4 linked regions of the Homo sapiens genome follow. The protein of the gene in region 1 interacts with the protein of each later gene in a pairwise test. Each region holds a gene or a part of one and is shown on either strand. Other genes may lie near its edges.

Evidence for each region. The genes of interacting proteins can lie anywhere in the genome.
Region 2: the proteins of SSX2IP (region 1) and CHCHD3 interact in binary tests that used the Homo sapiens proteins (3 or more experiments, as listed by UniProt).
Region 3: the proteins of SSX2IP (region 1) and FAM124B interact in binary tests that used the Homo sapiens proteins (3 or more experiments, as listed by UniProt).
Region 4: the proteins of SSX2IP (region 1) and CCDC198 interact in binary tests that used the Homo sapiens proteins (3 or more experiments, as listed by UniProt).

Annotation. Positions count from the first base shown.
Region 1 is NC_000001.11:84,679,525-84,684,683, forward strand, and holds part of SSX2IP (afadin- and alpha-actinin-binding protein), read right to left. Parts: intron 2,944-5,159; exon of another isoform or gene 2,674-2,943; intron 2,461-2,673; exon of another isoform or gene 2,304-2,460; intron 864-2,303; exon of another isoform or gene 814-863; intron 1-813. UniProt on the Homo sapiens protein: Belongs to an adhesion system, which plays a role in the organization of homotypic, interneuronal and heterotypic cell-cell adherens junctions (AJs).
Region 2 is NC_000007.14:133,071,042-133,076,200, forward strand, and holds part of CHCHD3 (MICOS complex subunit MIC19), read right to left. Parts: intron 1-5,159. UniProt on the Homo sapiens protein: Component of the MICOS complex, a large protein complex of the mitochondrial inner membrane that plays crucial roles in the maintenance of crista junctions, inner membrane architecture, and formation of contact sites to the outer membrane.
Region 3 is NC_000002.12:224,377,149-224,382,262, reverse strand, and holds the end of FAM124B (protein FAM124B), read left to right. Parts: intron 1-2,054; coding exon 2,055-2,690; 3' UTR 2,691-3,565; downstream 3,566-5,114.
Region 4 is NC_000014.9:57,472,309-57,477,467, forward strand, and holds part of CCDC198 (factor associated with metabolism and energy), read right to left. Parts: intron 3,397-5,159; coding exon of another isoform or gene 3,274-3,396; intron 1-3,273. UniProt on the Homo sapiens protein: May be involved in tuning the metabolism, energy expenditure, and excretion processes.

The DNA of each region.
Region 1 (5,159 bases):
TTGGAAAGTACAGTGCAAACAATGCCAGCCTCAGAGGCCCGGGTCAACAGACTGATTCATATCTTGACGAAGACACTTATTTCCAAGATGCTCTCTTCAAGATGGTTTCCTCACCTTAAAATGGGGTGATGATAATCTACTTCTTAAGGTTGTGGATATTTAACAGAGTAAGAGGTGGAAAACTAAGTACACTATAACTAGGACATAGGGTACTGGTTTAATAACACATGTGCCAGGAGCTATTCTAAATGCTTTACGTATGTAATTAAGTCAATCTTCACAACAACACTGTTATTTTTTCCTTTTTACAGGTAAGGAAATTGAGGCAGAGAGGTTAGGTAATTTGCCCAAGGTCACAGAGCTAGCAAGTGGCAGAGGCAGGATTCCAACCCCCCAACCCCACATTGGACTGCAGAGCCCATTCTCTTAACCATCACATATTGTTGCTTCAGTGGGTGAGGGGCTCAGGAAGCAGCATCTCCTACGACTACTCCTTTAAGAACCAGAAAAAACAGAACTCAATCTATCTCCCAGTTGGGCTCAGACTGCATAAAATAGTGTGAACACATAAATTATGGTACAATAATTCATGTGTATCTCTGGGTTGAGGGATATAATCTCAATGAAGCTCCTGGCCAAAATCTGCCATTAGAAAGCCATCCTCAGCTTAGAAAGCAGGGAGCTACATGCTGTTCTTTAAATTCCTTATATATCTTTGAACTGATCATTGCTGCAGTATGAGAAACAGTACAGTAAAAGAGTTAAAATCCAAAGCCAGACCATCTGGTTCCAAACCCCGGCTTCTCCACTTACAGACTAAATGGTCCTGAACATAAATCTTCTTTGGGCCTCACTTTCCTCATCTGCAAAAGGAGAGTAAAAGCAGTTTACCTCAAAAAATTATGTGGTTAAACAGTAAATTTAGTTACCAAATTTCTTTAATAATTTTATTAAATAAACTTATGCATGTAGAGGGCTTAAAAAAAGGTCATGGGTACATGGTAAGTGCTCAATAAATGCTAGCTATTATTAGCTATTTTACTCTTGGAAAGACTTCCATGATATTTTGTTAAGTAATGTAAAAAAGTTACAAAACCATATCTAATATGAGCTTATTTAGTCCTCAGGAAAAAAAAACAAATATCAGTAGATATGTACAGGCATAAATTCTGCTCTATAAACACAAAAGTTGGTATAAGGACAGAAAAAATTGCAAGGAAAAACCAACTTAAAAAATAGGGAAAAGGCAAGGGCAGGACTTTCATTCCTTTCTTTATGTACTTTCATGCACAAAAATATAACTTTTATTTTATTGTGTCTTCCAAATTTTCTATAAATGAAAGTGTTTTTCATATTAAGAAAAAAAATTTATGTTTTTAAAAGGCAATTATGGTGATGATAAGCACAGGAAATGGGGATAAACAGCACCATTCTGAACCACCAAAACCAATGGTAGAATGGCATGAGTGATAAAAAATGCATAAAATAAAACAGCAAGCAGTCTTGTTGGGCAAAAACTGGTTAGAAAATTATACAAATGTCCTACAGTTTTTTAAGATAGTCAATTATGTAAGGGAAATAGCACTTTACCAGAGATCAGTAGTTTGTTGTTTTAAAGGGCAATTCCAACAGTATACAAATATTTGAAATGTGTAAATCTTTCCACTAAACAATCATACTTCTAGGCATATAAGAGAGCAAGCATAATATATATTGAGGACATTGTTGAATTGCAGTATTATTTGAAATGGCAAAAAACTAGAGACAATCTTAATATCCATCATGGACAAACTGTTAAAAACCAACACATATGGTACAGCCAGGCTATTCTGGGATTATTAAAGATTAAAGCACATATGCATGTATAGCACAAAAAAAGAAGTTACAGGTTAATTAGAACAGTATGATCACCATTTTTTGTTAACTCAAACTACCTATATATATTTAGGGGAAAGTTCTGGAAAAGTTACAAAATGTCACAAATGACACTTCTTGGGATGGAATAATTTGGGTACAGGGAGGGGTAGAAGAGCAGGGCTTTCACCTCTTCCATAGCATATCTTTATATAGCTTGAATGTTATAGGAGCATGTATTATTCTGTAAAATTTTTAGCAGCAGAGTATTCAAGCACAATTAAATGAGATAATGTGTGAAAGTACTCTTAGCTCAATCCCAAAAAGTAGCAGCCCTGTCCTTGAGTGGAAATCTCGACTTAGACAAATCCCACCAATCAGGTACACTTCTAGCACCTGTTCCACATATGTACGCATACCCATGAGCAAGGGTAATGCAGTCTTCATACCTGAGGGAATGTCTGTGGGAATCTGGCCCATCAGGAAGACAGGGAACAGAAATACAGAGGCCAGACTTTTCCCCAACTATCATCAAGGGCAAAGCCATGGAGTACTGGCAGACCTGGCAAAAGTGGACTCTCCCCCTGGCTTAATGAACAATCCAACCTTGGTAGGAGGAAAGAGGGAAATTGACTTTATTAACACCCTCTTCAAAAACAAATGCTCTTCATCTTTCAACCTTCAATGAATGAAATTACTAAGAAGGTGCATTTCCGCTTCAAGAGAGCAGCTCACAAAGTTAAATACGGTAGGGACTTAATCTATGTACACCATCTGATATTCCATTATATACTGACTTTTTATTGCTAATGTTTTCACCTGTTTTGGACTTGGCTGCCAATTAAACTGTTAGTTTTCCAGGGCGCTGTCACTTCAGGGAAGCTGCACAGGGTACTGAGAGAGCGCTGGACTGAGTAGCATCAGAGGCCATGGTTCTCAGCAACACTTCTGTTATGTACTGAGAAACCTTGAACCGGTCATAATTTCTTTGGGTTTCAATTATGAAGTCAAACTAGATGACCTTTAAAGAATTTCAAGTTCTATTATCTTTTGATTTTTACATTTCTCATAGGACCCAATATGGAACTGAGTACAGCTATTTATATCAAAATTATTTTGTCTTCACTTTTTTTTTTTTTTTTGAGACGGAGTCTTGCTCTGTTGCCCAGGCTGGAGTGCAGTGGGGTGTGATCTCAGCTCACTGCAACCTCTGCTTCCTGGGTTCAAGCAATTCTCCTGCCTTGACCTCCCGAGTAGCTGGGACTACAGGCGCATGCCACCGCACCTGCTAATTTTTGTATTTTTAGTAGAGATGGGGTTTCACCATGTTGGCCAGACTGGTCTCGAATTCCTGACCTCGTGATCCTCCCACCTTGGCCTCCAAAATGCTGGGATTACAGGTGTGAGCCATCACGCACTGCCTTTTCTTCACATTTTTATAACAATGTGCACACATTGTCTTTACAACCCAATGTTTAGCAAATGAGATTCTACCTAATTTTAATAACAATAAAATAATTTATTAAGCATGTAGCAATTACTTGGAACAATTCTAAGCATTTTATGTGTACGAACTTATTCAATCTTACAATGATCCAAATACTTTCCCCCATTACAGATAAGGAAACTGAAGCCTGGAGTTTTCTTGACCTAGGATACAGAGCTGGAACATGACAAAGCCAAAATTCAAACCCTGGTAGTCTAGCACATTTAACATTACACCCTACTATCTTTAGTACAGGAGAGGGGGAAGGATACAATATTCAAGCTGCTTTTTTTTTTTTTAAGTTTTGGGATACATGTGCAGAACGTGCAGGTTTGCTGCACCTATCAATCCGTCATCTAGGTTTTAAGCCCCGCATGCATTAGTTATTTGTCCTAATGCTCTTCCTCCCCTCAAGCTGCTTTTTCAAACCGAACAAGTATTCTCTTCTTTACCACCTCACCTGAAACTAAATTATAATCAAATAATTATGCCAATTGAATAACTGGAATGGGAACTACACAAAAGCAGACAAAATATTAAATTCTGGATGTAGCAATTCAAAAAAATTTTGAAAAACCTAGCAAATATATTGCCAGGCTTTCCCTGCACTGCCATCCCTTCTCTCTGTGCTTCTAGAACACTTAACATGAACTGTATTACAGCACAGATCTAACAGGAATAAAATTTCTCTCCCACCACAACTGAGTTCTCATTTGGCAGGCTTGTCAGCATATTCTTTGTACCCCACTTCGGTAACAGGCATCATCACTCACTCCAAGGTTGGAGCCCAGTCAAGATTGCTGAATGAATGTCCAAGTTCAAGGATGTATTAGTGTAAGGTTTGCTGCTGTTTTAGTATGATAGACAAGTCAACACTTTGGCCATGCTGCAATTTGGAAGGGCTTTCAACGTAATCTTGATTGGTAACAGCTCAGAGAAGGAGAAAGGTGATTCAGGGTATGAATCAAGAGCATGGCAATTTACAAACAGTGTATCAGTTTCAAATTCTTCCAATGTACACACAGGAATAGCAGCAATCATATTCTTAGAAGATTATTAAGAAACAAGAAAAAAAAGAGGCACTTTTAGAAGTCTATCAACTTTTAAGGTTAAAAGTCAGCTAAGAAGTCCAAATCAAATTTTAAAATTACTATTTATTGGTATTTCACTCCTCAAATAATGAAATGGTAATAGCATCTACTAAAGGCATTGGAAATAACAAAGAAACCAAACATAATTAATAAATCTACTCATCGTTTTTTCAATGATTTAGCCCAAATTCAATCATTGGTTATAGTTGTCAACGTGTGGTCCTGGGACCAGCAGCATCAACATCACCTGACTCAATAAAAATGCAAATTATCAAGTGCCACTACAGACCTACAGATTCAGAAACTTTAGTGGTGGGAGAACCTCCACGTAATTCTGACAAAGTTTGAGAATCACTGCTGTGTTCTATAGAATGTGGTTCAGTATAAATTAGTATTCTATTTATATGCACTTTCAATTAGAGAACACCAAAAAGGAATTCTTATCTAAGGGTCCTACAAAATGGATTCCAAGAATGATGTAAAAGTGTTCCAAAGCACTAAATGGAGGCTGAAAATAACAGTCCTAGGGAATGCCTGGCTAAGCAGCTTATTAAACCTTAGAGGATGGGGGGAAACTCTGAAAAATAAACAGTTCATCAGCTGAATATTCATTTATCCTATTCACATACTCTACAGCCCAGCAAGTCCACTCCTAGTGAAACCCAATCGAAACTCTTGCCTACGTATGCCAGGAGGTGTGCACCTATACAGCAGCATTCTTCACAATA
Region 2 (5,159 bases), on another chromosome or scaffold:
GGAGATATCAAGTAGGCAGCTGGCAATAGAGCAGAGGCTCTGAGGAACACACAGCCTTGCGGATTTGAGAGTCATCATTCCCACAGTTACTATCGCGTCATCCTTTTTTATTTTCTTTACAGCACTTAACCACTACCTGAGACTTGCTTGTTTACCATCTGCCTTTCACTAGAAAGAAAGCTCCCTGAAAGCAAGGATTTGGCTGTCCTATCGCTATACTCCCAGAGCCTCACTAAGCCTAGTTAATTCAATGAATGAATGTTAAATGAATGAATGAAACAACATGAATAAATGGCTGAAGCAAGAAAATAGAGAGAGGGCATAGTGAAAGAGAAGGTGGGGAGGGAAGGTAGAGATTCCAAATTTTGAAGATTCTTAGTGAACTCTTCAATTGAAACAGTTTGAACTTGACCCTGAGGGTACCTGAGCACTACTGAAGGATTTTAAGCAGGGGAATGGCACGATCAGATTTACACTTTAGGAAAATCACTCTGGCTACAATGTAGAGAACAGATTGGAGGGGGACAAGAACAGAAGCAGGATCCCTGAAGGAGGCTAAAGGACCAATTAAGAAGCTATTAAGCATATGTCCACACAAAGACTTGCACAGGAATGTTCATAGCAGCATTATTCATAAGAGCAAGGGTGGAAACAAACACATGTCTATCTACGGTGAATGGATAAACAAAATCTTACATATCCATACAACACTATACAACTCAGCAATAAAGAGCAGTGAAGTTATGACATGTGCTACCGTACAGATAGACCTAAAAATCATTAAGCTAAGTGAAAGAAGCAAACACAAGGGCCACATATTGAATGATTCTATTTATATGAAACACCCAGAAAAAGCATCCCTATAGAGTAGATTAAGTAGTTGCCTAGAGCTGGGGTGGGAATAGGGATTAACTGTAAACAGGCACAAGAGATCTTATTGGGGTGATAAAAATATTCTAAAATTGCATTGTAGTGATGTTTGCACAACTCAGTAAATTCATCAAGTGTTGAATTGCTACTCGGGAGGCTGAGGAGGGAGGATCACTTGAGCCCAGGAGGTCAAGGCTGCAATGAGCCATGATCATGCCACTGTGCTCCAGCTTGGGCAACAGAGCAAGACCCTATCTAGAAAAAAAAAAAAAAAGTGTTGGAATGTAAACTTAAAATGGATGAATTTCATGGCATGTAAATTACTCTACAACAATTTACTTTAATAAACTTTAAAAAAAAAAAGCTATTATGGTAATCCAGGGGAGAACACACTTAAAAGGTATTTAGGATTTAAAATACTAACATTCACTGAGTGCTTATTATGTGCCAGGCGCTACACTAAGCTAGGCACTTCACTTATTTACTCCTTCACAGGCCTATGAGATAGATACTTTTGTATCTCTATTTTATAGGTGAAAAAACTGAAGCATAGCCGGATTAAATAACTGGCCCTGGATCAGATACTTTATCAGTAGCAGAGGAAGGATTCAAACCCAAAAAGTCTGAGTCTCAAGATCCCACTCAAGGCCAGGCATGGTGGCTCGCATCTGTAATCCCTGCACTTTAGGAGGCCGAGGTGGGCGGATCACGAGGTCAGGAGATCGAGACCATCCTGGCTAACATGGTGAAACCCCATCTCTACTAAAAATACAAAAAATTAGCTGGGCGTGGTGGCGGGCGCCTGTAGTCCCAGCTACTCAGGAGGCTGAGGCAGGAGAATGGCGTGAACCCGGGAGGCAGAGCTTGCAGTGAGATCGCGCCACAGCCTGGGCAACAGAGTGAGACTCCGTCTCAAAAAAAAAAAAAAAAGATCCCACTCAAACATCCCTCAGCATCACTACCCAGTATCTGAGTAGATGTGGGAGTAAAGCAGAAGTCATCAAGGAAGACCCCAGGATTTCCATTTCAAGTAACTGAGTGATCCTCCTCCTGTATCAAGGGTCTCCTTCCCATTTCCACTTCCTGAACTCACCACTCTCTGGCTTTTACCCTCAGTGCAACAGTGAACATTCTCTGGTAGAAGTCACCAATGACCAAATAAATAACTTTTGATATTTATGTAAATAAATATTTTATATTTATAAAATGCCTTATTTATATGGCTTCCCTTTAGCATCTAACACCTCTGGCCACTCCCGTCTTCTGGAAAGCCCTCCCTTGGCTTTTCTGACATCCTGCTGTCCTGGTTCTCCTAGGACTCTGGCCACATTTTATCTCTTTTGCAGCTTCCCCTCTCCTGCCTGCACTTCAATGCTGAAGGGCCCTTCTCATTCTATGTGCCCTTGTACTGGCACTCTCATCCAATCTCTTGATTTCTAACTGTTGTTGATAAACTAATAAATTCCATTAATAAATGCATTCACTCGAGCTTAAGACCTATCTCTCAGAAGCCCGGTCTCCACACTGAAGTGCCTAATGAACACCTTCCTTCTGGCAAACCAGAAGCACCTCACACCCAAAGTGTCCAAAATTGATCTCACGTTTGCCGCATATCTCCTCTTTCTCCTGCCTTCCTTACCTCATTAATGACACCACCAACACCCAGCTTCCTAAATTCAAACATAGGGCTTGTTCTTAACTCTTCTTTCTCTCTCATTCTTAGCTCTGACTTCATCAATCCCTAAATATTTAATGAATTCCTCTCTTCTCTCATCCCATTTCTCCTGCCCTAATTCCTGTACCATCCGCTTAAAATGCAAATGTGATAATGGTAACTCCCTACTTCAAATTCTTCAATAGCTACTGTCTGTTTACAGAAAAATTCAAATTCTTTGTACAGCATTCAAGACTTCATCATTTGGTGATGGCCTAACTCTCCAACCTCAAATTCTACAGTTTTTTTCCTTAATATTACATATCCTGTTCTACGTCCATCTCCTTGCCTTTACACACGCCTACATTGCCCTCTCTCCTGTACCATTGGGAGGGAGTCACCTTTCAAGACGCAGTCTAAACATCCAAGCCTTCACTGACCAAAACAGTTGTCCACTCCATTCCAACCCTGCCTACCTAAAGCTACCATTCCTTGTGCCTGCTGTTCCTTTCTCAAACTTCCAATACAGTCTCAATGAAAGAACAGGAATTAGCCTTTCCACATTCACCTTTCTGCCTTTCCACTAGATTGCAAGCTCCTATATATTAAGTCATTCATTCAACAAATGTCTCCCAGGCCAGGCACTAATCAAGGCCCTGTGATACATCAGTGAACTAAATAGTCTATACCTCAACTGTTACTTGTATCTCAGGGCCCAAACCAGAATGGAAATAAGATGGAAAAGGGAAAGGCTACAGATCAAATGCTGTGTGTGCTCTTTGAAGGAAAAAACTACGACTCCCTTCTTGGAAGACAAGAAGACTTTCTATTTGAAAATGCCAGAGCCAGCTGCATCCTTCTAACAACTGACAGCCACTGGGAATGTTGCTGAAACCCATCTGAGAAACTGAGAAACTGAGACACATCCTAGAAAAATCCCCGTAAGACTGACTCAATTTATACTTGAGAAAAAAAAGAGACCCTGAGTAATATTCAGTTACTGGCAGCATCAAGACCAGAAGCAGTAATTCCCCAATCTCTAGTCCAATGCTCTACTTTTAATAACACACCCCTTCAATCCCATGCATGTAATAAAAATATCACTTCCTCTTAAAGAGGAAAAAATAAGCTTACATTTTTAGAATCTTAAAGCTATTTTAACTGATATATAATATATATAAATCTCAAAAATCAAGTGTTAGCTATAAGCTTTCATCTGAAAAGTTACTATTTTCATCTGAAAAAAATGAAAATAATGTTTACCCCAGAGATTCTGTGGAGGGATTTTAGTGTTTTGCACCATAAACTACAATTGGCTACACAAATATTTGGTAAAGCTATTACCCATATAGCTCCAACCACAGGGACTTTTTAATTCATTTTGGTTCATTTTTATCAACTGGGTCTGAGCTTGTACTGACTCGTTCTCTGTAAGGTGCATGAGGACCAGGCCTGCAGCTATTGCAAGCAGCAGCTGCCTAAGTCCTGGTATGGGTATAGAAGGTGCTTATTTTTCTCTATCTATGCTCTCTAGGTAGTAGGAGTAGAATGTCTCTTTCAACCTAATCACTAATTTCTTGTTAACTTTTTTTTCTTTTTGAGGCCTCTCTGATGTCCCAAGTTGCTACTTAATGTCAAATTCTCACATCAATTCAAAACATTTCCCAGTGGGATGTTTGGTTATAGTTCAGTAAACTTGTAAGCATGCACCAAAGGAGTATATACTAAACCTATTGAAGGCTTGATAAACATATTGTACGGCTGCCTTATTGAGACTCCACCTTTCTCTTGTTCTTACAATCATTCAACAACTGTATCCTTAGGCCCTTCCAAAGCAGCACCCATGGCCATCTACTGTTGCACCTCTGCCAACTCCAAGCACTATTACCCTATTCCCAGTCTGCTCATAGCGACGTAGATATGAGGTAATAGTTTTGTTGTGTTATCATCTGTATCCAAAGTTAATGCTCTCTGAGCTGACCTTCCCATTGCAGTAGTAAGTTCAGACCTGCACACTCACCTGATCTCCTCTGTGAACAGGGGTACTCACTCGTGAAGCAGCTGACAAGCTTTAGAGATGCTGGCCAGGATTATACACGCAATCTGTAGCTGCAGAACAACTCATCTTTCTGATAAAAAATGACCCAAAATGGGGGTCGATAGTACAACACAAGCTTCTGCGATGGCAGCCTCTGTGTAAGAAGTATCTTGCGGTCAGGTGTGGTGGCTCACGCCTATAATCCCAGCACTTTGGGAGGCCAAGGCAGGCAGATCATGAGGTCAGAAGATCAAGGCCATCCTGGCTAACACGGTGAAACCCCATCTCTACTAAAAATATAAAAAATTAGCCAGGTATGGTGGTGGGTGCCTGTAGTCCCAGCTACTTGGGAAGCTGAAGTAGGAAAATCGCTTGAACCCAGAAGGTGGAGGTTGCAATGAGCCGAGATCGCACCACTGCACTCCAGCATGGGCAAGAGAATGAGATTCTATCTCAAAAAAAAAAAAAAAAAAAAAAAAAGTATCTTCTTCAGGAAACATATCTTTTCCTGAACCGGGCACTTGTTTAAGCAAAGCCTTTTCCTGTACAATGACCTATACCTATTATACTTGCTTTCCAGACATCTCTGGAATCTGC
Region 3 (5,114 bases), on another chromosome or scaffold:
TTTACTGAACACAGCCATTCATTTATATATTGTCTATGGCTGCTCTGCAGCAGAGTTGGATAGTTGGGATAAAGACCATATGGCCGGCAAACCCTCAGATATTTACTGTCTGGCTCCTTGCCGAAAATATTTGCCAACTTCTATTCTAAAAGAATCAGTGGAAGTCCTTGTTTTTTTGTGTGTTTGTTTTTGCAGCTTGGTAATATGCACCTCACCATTTCTATCAGAAAATTGAGATGTACTCTGCGTCATCTATACAAACAAATATGCTCTGTGTGAGTGTGTGTGTGTGTGTATGAGAGAGAGAATTTACTGATTTCTAGACCTGTTTTCTCACTGTCCTCATTTCTGCCTTCTTGCCTTGTAAGATAAATATGTATCATTATTTTTTCTCCCTTGAAATAGACCTTATTTTTTACAGCAGTGGTAGGTTCACAGCAGAATTAAGCAGAAAGAACAGAGAGTTCCCATATACAACCTTCCCCCCGAAAAGAGCCTCCTTTCCTGTCAACATCCTTTATCAGAGTGGTACATGTGTTACAACTGATCAACCTACAACGACACATCACCATCACCCAAAGCCCATAGGGTACATTAGGGTTCATTCTTGGTGTCGTACATTCTGTGGGTTTGGACAAATGTATAAGGATGTGCATCCACCATTACAGTATCATGCAGAGTAGTTTTCACTGCCCTAAAGTCCTCCTGCTCCACTTAGTCATCCCTCCCTCCCCCCAACCCCTGGCAACCACTGATTTTTTTACTGTCTTCATAGTTTTGGTTTTTCCAAAGTGTCATATAGTTGGCATCATATAGTCTCTCTCTGTCACCCAGGCTGGAGTGCAGTGGTGCAGTCATAACTCAATTTAACCTCGAACTCCTGGGCTCGAGGGATCCTCCCTCTTCTGCCTTCTGAATAGCTGGGACTATATGTATGGACCACACGTCTGGCTGATGTTTTTATTTTTTGTAAAGATGGGGTCTTGCTAGTTGCCCAAGCTGGTCTTGAACTCCTGGCCTCAAGTAGTCCTCCCACCTCAGCTTCCCAAAGGGCTAGGATTACAGGCATGAGCCCAGATAGGCTTCTTTCAGTTAGTAGTATTTATTGCAAGTTCTTCCGTATCATTCTTCTTGATATTTGATTAAGGGCTGGGCCAGGTAGGGATGGATCCTGGATACAAATTTCCAAGGGCTGTTATCAAAATGGAAAAAATTGCCTTTTTCCAGAAATCTTCTTGGGAAGAGTGTTGTGCATGGAATAGGATGCAAGGCTCCCAAGGGTGGAAGTCTTAAAGGGGGGTCAGTGAACTCCATCCTGTGGAGGGAGAGTGCAGTCAACTGCAGGGTGAGGGTTTTGCTGAGTGGTGTCTGTAAGTTTGTAACCAGAGTGGAATTGCTAAGGATGAAAACACCTAAACTTCCATATAAGCCATGCCCCCTTTTTGTTTTCTCATGCAATACCAGGCCTCTAATCTAAATAAATGGTGCCCCAAGAATTTAAAGAATATTGCTGCCAAATTATTAGCCGTCTGGAGTGGTCACATGTCTTAGAATGGCCCAAGATATGTATTTTTATTAGCATGATCTAAAAGAAGGATCACCAGCTTTGGAAGATTGAATTCTTACTTCAATCCTTATCTTAACTTTAACCACATGGTTTGGTGGCTTTCTAAATTTCTTTTTTTACATGGTTGCTAATAAATATATCATTTACAACATCCAGTGAGGTCACTGAATGACATCTGTGAATGTCTGCATTGTTTGAACAACTTGCTCTACCAGAAGTGTGGTGTTGTCAATTGGCCATTTGATTCCCAAAGTCTTACCCTTGTCAAAAACTTAATTTAGGGAGTCCCAAAGAGAGGTATTTGGGGCTGGGTCTGATTAGATATCTCATAATTATATTGTACTTATCACTTCTATTCAATTCAACCAAATTTACTGAAAGTCTGCTATGGGCATGGCATGGCAGAGGGTGAATAAGGCATAGTCAGCTCTTGGCACTTAGTTAATGGAAATTATGTTTCATATGTTCCTCCTTTCCTTTCCTGTAGGTTCAGCTGAATCCAGAACTTGGTGTTAAGAATGGCATCTTGGGAGCTGGCATGCTTCCCCTGGGCTCCAGGCTGACTTCTGTCTCTGCAAAGAGGACCTCAGAACCCAGGAGCCAGAGGAACCAGGGCAAGAGGTCCCAGGGGCATTCTCTGGAGCTTCCTGAGCCCAGTGGGAGCCCCACATCAGACAGGTGTGCTGGCACTTCGTGGAAAAGCCCTGGCCGGTCATTCCAGGTCAGCAGCCCAGCTATGGGTGCCCACCTGCACCTGTCTTCTCATCACCTTGAATCCGGGGCCAGAATGAAGGTCCTCAACCGGGAAAACAGCTTTCAGAAGCTTGAGGCCGAGACGAATGTTGACACCGGCTTGACCATCATAAATTCTGAACCCAGGCAGACTTATTTTGGCGGATTTCCAAGGGATTTACAGACCAGCCAGCCACCATTCTGCTTGCCAGCCTCTTCCTTGGGGGTGGCTACCTCCAAAAACAACAGTGTCCTTAAGGAAAGAGTCTCTCCTTTGCCACTTGCTGGCCAAAGGGACCTTGGTACCAGGAAGACAATTTCAGAATGTCTCCTTCATCTGCAAGTTCAGGGTGAAGAAAAAGAAGAAGATGAAGAAGAATTCTTTATATAGCATAAAATAAATGTGGTTTTCTAAAACACAAGATCAGATAAAATGTTCTAGAAATGGAGTACTGACCCAGAATCAGCCTGTTAGTTGTTCATCTGAGGGGGGCTGAATGCTCCCCATGCACAATCTGTATTGATTTTATTTCAAATGTTCAAAGTCTAAAGGTGCTGGGAATGATTGTTTATTTGCCGTCACAGTCATAAGAGAACACAGCCAACACACAGGGAAAAAAACCGAATGCTTTTGTTCCGTGGAGATGCACTAACCCAGCTGGATGTGTTGAATCCAGCACCTATCAGGATAATTGCATTGTATGCAAATGAATCGGTATGTTATACAACACTAATTAGTGTCTGTAATTTGGTTTTAATTTTTACTTAGGTTGCATAGCTCATCCCCCTGGACAATATGGACTGCTATTTACTCTTGAATGCTTTTTAATTTTCATGTGACCTCTTTTGGTAACTAGGCCTTGTTCACATACCCTCCTTGTGATTTTGTCTTTAAAGTTGTTTGTATCTGGAATGAGTGAAAATGCAAAGTGTTTTGAAAATTATAAACAGTTAATTTTGTTTTCCTGTTTAATGAGCCAAAATACTGGAAGCCAGAAAATCAGGTTGAACATGAATGCTAGGCTCTAGGGCTTTCCTGCTCATCTGCTTCTCATTTGTTTCTGCACTATGTCAAAGAGGACAGTGGTTCTTGTTACAAACCAAAGAGGAACATTGAGCACAGTGGGAAAATTGGACTGGTTGATCTGGTCACTGGAGCAGGACTTGGGTTCTTCTGGCCAGATTTTGACTCCCAGATTCCTTTACAAAACGCACTCATTCATTCATTTATATATGTTCATTCAATAAACATTTTTTGAATACCTACATTTGAATAAGACATTGTGTATATGGTACATATACATTCTGGGGCCATGAAACCCAAAAAGTGTTTATGGTTTCACCACTCTGATAAATTCATTCTACCAACTTTTAAAAAGATACTGAATTCCAAATATATTCCTCCAAAAACTTTTTCCACAGTTGAGGCCCACACTGGCCACATAATGGTGTAATAAGCATTTGCAACCTGCAGATGGAGACTGGGCATATTATGAATTGCAATTATAATTGCAATGGACAAATTCTCGTTGCCCATATGCTGAATTTTTTGGATATGTCTGTACACACATGTTTAAAAATCCCGAGGCCTGTGTTTCAGTTCATTTATAAGGTTATTCAATTCCACGAACTTCACTCTCAGAACAGATGTTACATAAGAGTGTAAATGTTGATTTAGCTGGATCTTTTGGAGACTTGGAGACTTACTACACCTAACTGGAGACAGAGATGAGTTCAGTCCTAAAGTCAAATCTTGCAAAAGTGAGTCTAGGCTGATTTTGGGTGCTCTTCTCCGCAAAAGGGATAGAAACGGAGGAGAGTTGTAAATGGACAAAGACAAGACTCCTCAATTGATATTTTTTGTCCTTAAAACATCAACATATTCTCATTCCCATTTTGTCTCTCTCTCCCCTAGACTACAATTTGATTTTAGAAAACGGGATGAAGAGCTTAACTTTGGTATAGCTTTCTATAATAAGAGTTAAAACAAAAAAGGAAGTTGAACTACTGAACTTTGAATAAGCACAGCAGGAAGAAGTTTTGAAATTTCCTTCCCACTTTTTTTTTGATGTTATCTAAATTTTCTTAATATAATACATGGGTAAGAATAAAAGTACCTGAAAATTATAAAGAATATTGAGAAATGTGAATCAGGCACCTTACAAAATTGACTTGTAAAATAATATACCCTTAAAATGTCATCTATTCTATCCTACTTGTATTATTCAGGGTTCCCTAGAGGAACAGAACTAATAGGATAGATAGATGTATATATGAAAGGGAGTTTATTAAGGAGTATTGACTCACACAATCACAAGGTGAAGTCCCACAATAGGCTGTCTGCAAGCTGAAGAGCAAGGAAGCCAGTCCAAGTCCCAAAACCTCAAAAGTAAGGAAGCTGATAGAGCAGCCTTCGGTCTATGGCCGAAGGCCCTAGAACCCCTGGCAAATCACTGGTGTAAGTCCAAGAGTCCAAAGCTGAAGAACTTGGAGTCTGATGTTCAAGGGCAGGAAGCATCCAGCACAGGAGAATGATGAAGACCAGAAGACTCAGCCAGTCTAGTCCTTCCACATTCTTCTGCCTGCTCTATTTTAGCCACGCTGGCAGCTGATTAGATGGTGCCCACCCAGACTGGGGGTGGGTCAGCCTCTCCCAGTCCACTGACTCAAATGTTAATTTCCTTTGGCAACAGCTTCACAGACACACCCAGGAACAATACTTTGCATCCTTCAATCCAATCAAGTTGACCCTCAATATTAACCATCACACTACTCAACACAGGAATTCAATTTACAACATGATGGGATGGAAATA
Region 4 (5,159 bases), on another chromosome or scaffold:
TTCTGTTTCCTCTTCCATCTTCATTGTCTTTTTCATTTTTCCTAATGTAATGCTGACATTTTAAAGAATCCAGGTCAATTATTTTGCAGAATGATCCTAAATTTCAGCTTACCTTATTATTTCCTTGTTATTAAATTGAGGTTAAACATTTTGGGCAAGAATATTGCACAGGTGACATTGGGTAGTGCTTTTTGTTGAACATCTACTATGTGCTAGACACATAATATATACTTCTGACATTCACATCAACTCTGGCTTCATAGCAGAATCACCTGTTGCAGCCTTTTAGAAAGAGATGTCTAAACTGTTCTCCAGACCCATAGTACTGGGAAGTTCAGTGAGTCTGGCATTCTATTTTACTTTATATTTTTTATTAAAAGAGACAATTTATTTTTAGTTTGGGATTTTATTTATGTGCATATGTATTTACCTTAGTTTTTTATTTAAGCAGTTCCCAGCATTCTTTATAAGGCACTCCAGAAAGCAACAGGAGCTTTGTTCAAGGAAAGCTGGCTTTTAAGAAAACAAAATCTTCCCAACCACTTTGGAGCTGAAACAAAAATCCTAGGTCAAAGCCCAGAGTTTCCCACTAGACTGGTTGAAACGACCATAACTTTTTGGATGTCATCTTAATGATGATTGTTTATTAAATCTTTTGGCATAGTTTATGTAAGCCCTTGATATCTGAAGTTGTGTATTATTATATAAGAAAATCAAGTATTTCTTTTTACCTTGTGCACCATATTGTTAAAAACTACTTTATTGAACTAAGATTGACATACAAAAGCTACACATATTGAATGTATACAGCCTGGTGAGTTGGAAACAAGCATTTTAATGTGAGAATTCATGCCTTGTGATTTCTTGGGCCTCAGTGAGAGGCTACCAGTTTTTCCCCTTGAATACTATTATAATGATTGTTGTTGCCTATTTAGATAGCACTGGCAGATAACCATCTTAACGTCTGCAGCCCTGATCTCTTTCCTAAGCTACAAAGGACGTTTTTGTAAAACTGGACACCTCCACTTTGATATCTACTTGGCAATAATGCAGCCCTACCTTCTCTTTCTCTCACAAACCTGCTTCTGCTCCTGGCTACCCTAATTCAGCAAACGGTACTAACTTTACCCCATTGTCTGCCTAATTGTTCAAGAGAAACCCAGGAATCTACCTGGCCTCCTTACCCTCTCCATGCACTCACATCTAACCTATCACCTGATAATTCTGATCATTCTGTTTCCTAAAGATCTCATATCTGGCTGCTTCTCTCCATCCTGATCGTGACCCCACTATCCTGGTCTCAACATCATCTCTCACTTGTGCTTTTGTTGTGTCCTTATAATTGGTCTTCCTTCATCCTTTTACTTTCCCCTCCCACCCATTCTCCACAGTGTAGACAGAGTGACATTTAAAAATATGAACCTGCTTATGCCACTCTCCTGCCTTATCAGTGGCTTCCCATTGATCTTAAGATAGAGTTTAAAATTCTTATCTGACATGGCTTACAAAACCCTGTGTGATTTGGCCCTGCCCATGTCTCCAGAACCATCTCCAGTTACTCTCTGAATCTCTCATTCACCTAGAGTCCATCGTGTTCCTTCCCACTGCAGGACTTTTGCACATGCTGTGGTTGATTACCATTTTCAAAATTCCAGCACCCATGGTCCTCACACCTACATGCCCTCCTCCCCACTTCATCCAGCTACTTCTTATCTCAGTTTAAATGTCCCTTCCTCATGGAAACTTTCCCTGACTCCACAGATACCAGGTCTACCTGTTATACTCTTGTTAAACATCTCTTTGTTAAAACCAGAAACCATATCTGCCTGGCTCATCACCATACAATGAAACGACCACACAATGCCTGGCACTTGGTATGTGCTAAATAAATATTTGGTGAACAAATAGATGAATAAATGAATAAACAAATGAGCAATCAGAGAATTTTGGGAGATGGGAAGTATTGGTAACTAGGACCTAAAAAAGGCCCCATTCATTGGGGCTCAGGAATGCCAATCATCTCTGCTCTGCAAATTAGTCAAGAACTACCAGAGGCACCATTCAGACTGGGAACAGGAATTTTCTAGAACATCCAGCTATCAGCAGGAGCTCTGAAACAGAAGGGGAATGTTTGTTTGTGGTGGGATCTAGTGAAATATTAATGATAGCCTAAGTCCCACAACACCATTGATGTTATGAAAATTCAGGTCTAATGTTAGTGTATGAGACAAAATTCAAATATTCAGTTTCATCCTTGAAAATAAATCCTTTGTCACTCATAAAGTATTACATACATAGTTTTGTGTACACAGCATTAAAATTTGAGAGCTTCTGAGCTAGGTTTCTTATTACTTGTTACATTTTTATAAATCCTCATTTAATTCTCTGTGGTTTATAGACTTTAAAAAATAAAAACACAGTGTTTAAAAACCTAAATGGGTTTCGGGTGAGCAGAGTAAAGGAAAGTGTATCCTACTCCAAAATTAATTTAGGGAGAGAGGAAAGCAACAGCTGTCAGTGGGAAAAATAGGAAGTGATTTAGGTAGTAGAAGAATCACGTAAAGCATGAAAACTGTTTGATGGTTGTGTATTTTATGTGTTTCAGAAAAATGTATCACTACTCTATCAAACCCAGAATTTCACATACAGAGCTATATTAAAAAATAAAACAGGCTGGGCACAGTGGCTCACGCCTGTAATCCCAGCACTTTGGGAGGCCGAGGCGGGCGGATCACGAGGTCAGGAGATCGAGACCATCTTGGCTAACACAGTGAACCCCCGTCTCTACTAAAAATACAAAAAATTAGCCGGGCATGGTGGCGGGCGCCTGTAGTCCCAGCTACTCGGGAGGCTGAGGCAGGAGAGTGGCGTGAACCCGGGAGGCGGAGCTTGCAGTGTGCAGAGATTGTGCCACTGCACTCCAGCCTGGGCGACAGAGTGAGACTCCATCTCAAAATAAATAAATAAATAAATAAATAAATAAATAAATAAAATCTATAAAAAAATAAAATAAAACAAGATTCTTTATAGAAAGAGTGCAGGTGGCCAGATAAGACCAGAATTTTGAAGCTGACATTAAAATAATGGATTCAAAGTGACACATCCCTGAAGCATATGACTGTTTTCACTATAAGACATCAATTGTGGCCAGGCGCGGTGGCTCATGCCTGTAATCGGATCATGAGGTCAGGAGTTCGAGACCAGCTTGGCCAACATGGTGAAACCTCGTCTCTACTACAAATACAAAAGTTAGCTGGGCGTGGTGGCAGGCACCTGTAATCCCAGCTACTCGGGAGGCTGAGGCAGGAGAATCATTTGAACTTGGGAGGCGAAGTTTGCGGTGAGCCGAGATCATGCCATTGCACTCCAGCCTGGGTAACAGGAGCGAAACTCTGTCTTAAAAAAAAAAAAAAAAGACATCAATTCTATCCTTCTTCAGTTTTGTCTATATTCCCATACATTTGTACGGCACTTAGCTTCTTTTTTTTTTTTTTTTTTTTTTTTTTTTTTTGAGACAGAGTCTCTCTCTGTCGACCAGGTTGGAGAGCAGTGGTGTGATCTCGGCTTACTGCAACCTCTGCCTCTCAGGTTCAAGTAATTCTCGTGCCTCAGCCTCCCCAGTAGTTGGGATTACAGGCATGTGCCACCACTCCTGGCTAATTTTTTGTATTTTTACTAGAGACGGGGTTTTGCCATGTTGGCCAGGCTGGTCTCGAGCTCCTGACCTCAAGTGATCCACCCTCCTCAGCCTCCCAAAGTGCTGGGATTACAGGCATGAGCTATGGCCTGTAAAGTGCCTGGCCACACTTTACATTTTATGTGTGCTTTTATACATGTTAATTTTTACATAAACTTTACATGGTATACAATAACTTTATTCCCATTTTACAGATGTGGAAACTGAGGTTCCTGGAGGTTAAATAACTAGAATTTAGCTATATTCTTTCTCTCTCTAGAATAAAATTATATAGAAAAATATACAGTTAATATTTATTGAGAGGCTATCATGTGTCAGGTACTATTCTAGGGACAAGAAAAGGTCCCTGCCTTCATGGAGCTTCCATTTAGTAGATGCACTACTGGGACTCAGGGAAGGGCTTTGAGGTCAGTTCCGGTGCTCTTCCCACCCTCTGTGTTCATTCATGTCACAGCTTCAGCAAAGGGTAGGAGCCACAGAAACACATTAAATCTCATAGACTTGTACACCAAAAAGAGTGACATTCACTATGTGTACATTATATATCATTTGTGTCATATGATTGTATATGTAATTTATTATAGGAATGTATGTAAAATACATGTAAAGCGTGGGAGATTTCATTTTAAAGATGCAGTAGAAAGCAGCAACTGACTTTTATCTCACAAGAGAGCCACAACCCTCATTTCACCTTTCAACAGGGGAACAAGAATGGGCCAGTATGTCATTAAGAGGAGACTGCTACAGAGGAACCTTAATGACCAGACCCTGATAGTAGAATGCTTAATGACCAGACCCTGATAGTAGAATGCTTATGTAAGTGTAAGATCTTAGCTACACTCCATTTGTAGGAGAAAGCGAACTACTTTTAGAAGGCGTGGAAAGAAATCAAAGATGCTCTCTGGGAATAAGCAAAAAGGAATCATCGCTAGGACAAATGCCGAGCACAGAGGTGAAGGCTGTCGCCTCAGGAGTCAGGTGCCCCGTGAGTGCACGCCTGAGCAGCTTCACCTCTCACTGGCTGGCTGTGACCTTGCATATGTGACTGGACCTCTCTGGACCCAGACTCTTCATCTGTAGAAGAGAGGTGGTAATAATTTTCACCTTGTAGAGTTAATATGAAGATTAAATGCTGCATTTAAAATTCTTAGAAGCACTTGTAAATACTAGCTGTATCCATTATTATCCCAGTATCCTATACTTTTACATGTACAGGGCTGCACAGTGAACACTGCAGCACAGAACAGAATGATATCCTTTGGAGGCATTGTAATCTCTCTATCATCAAACAAATTTCCAGTGATATTTGCTTTACTTCTCTTTCCAACAACTTCAGCAATAGGCAAGTGAGTTGATGCAGACATGTTATTCTAAAAGTCTAGTTAATTATGATATCATTATAATAGGAAGAGTTAGAATTCCCTCTCTATTTCATGCTAGCAAAATCTACATTTTCTAGGCT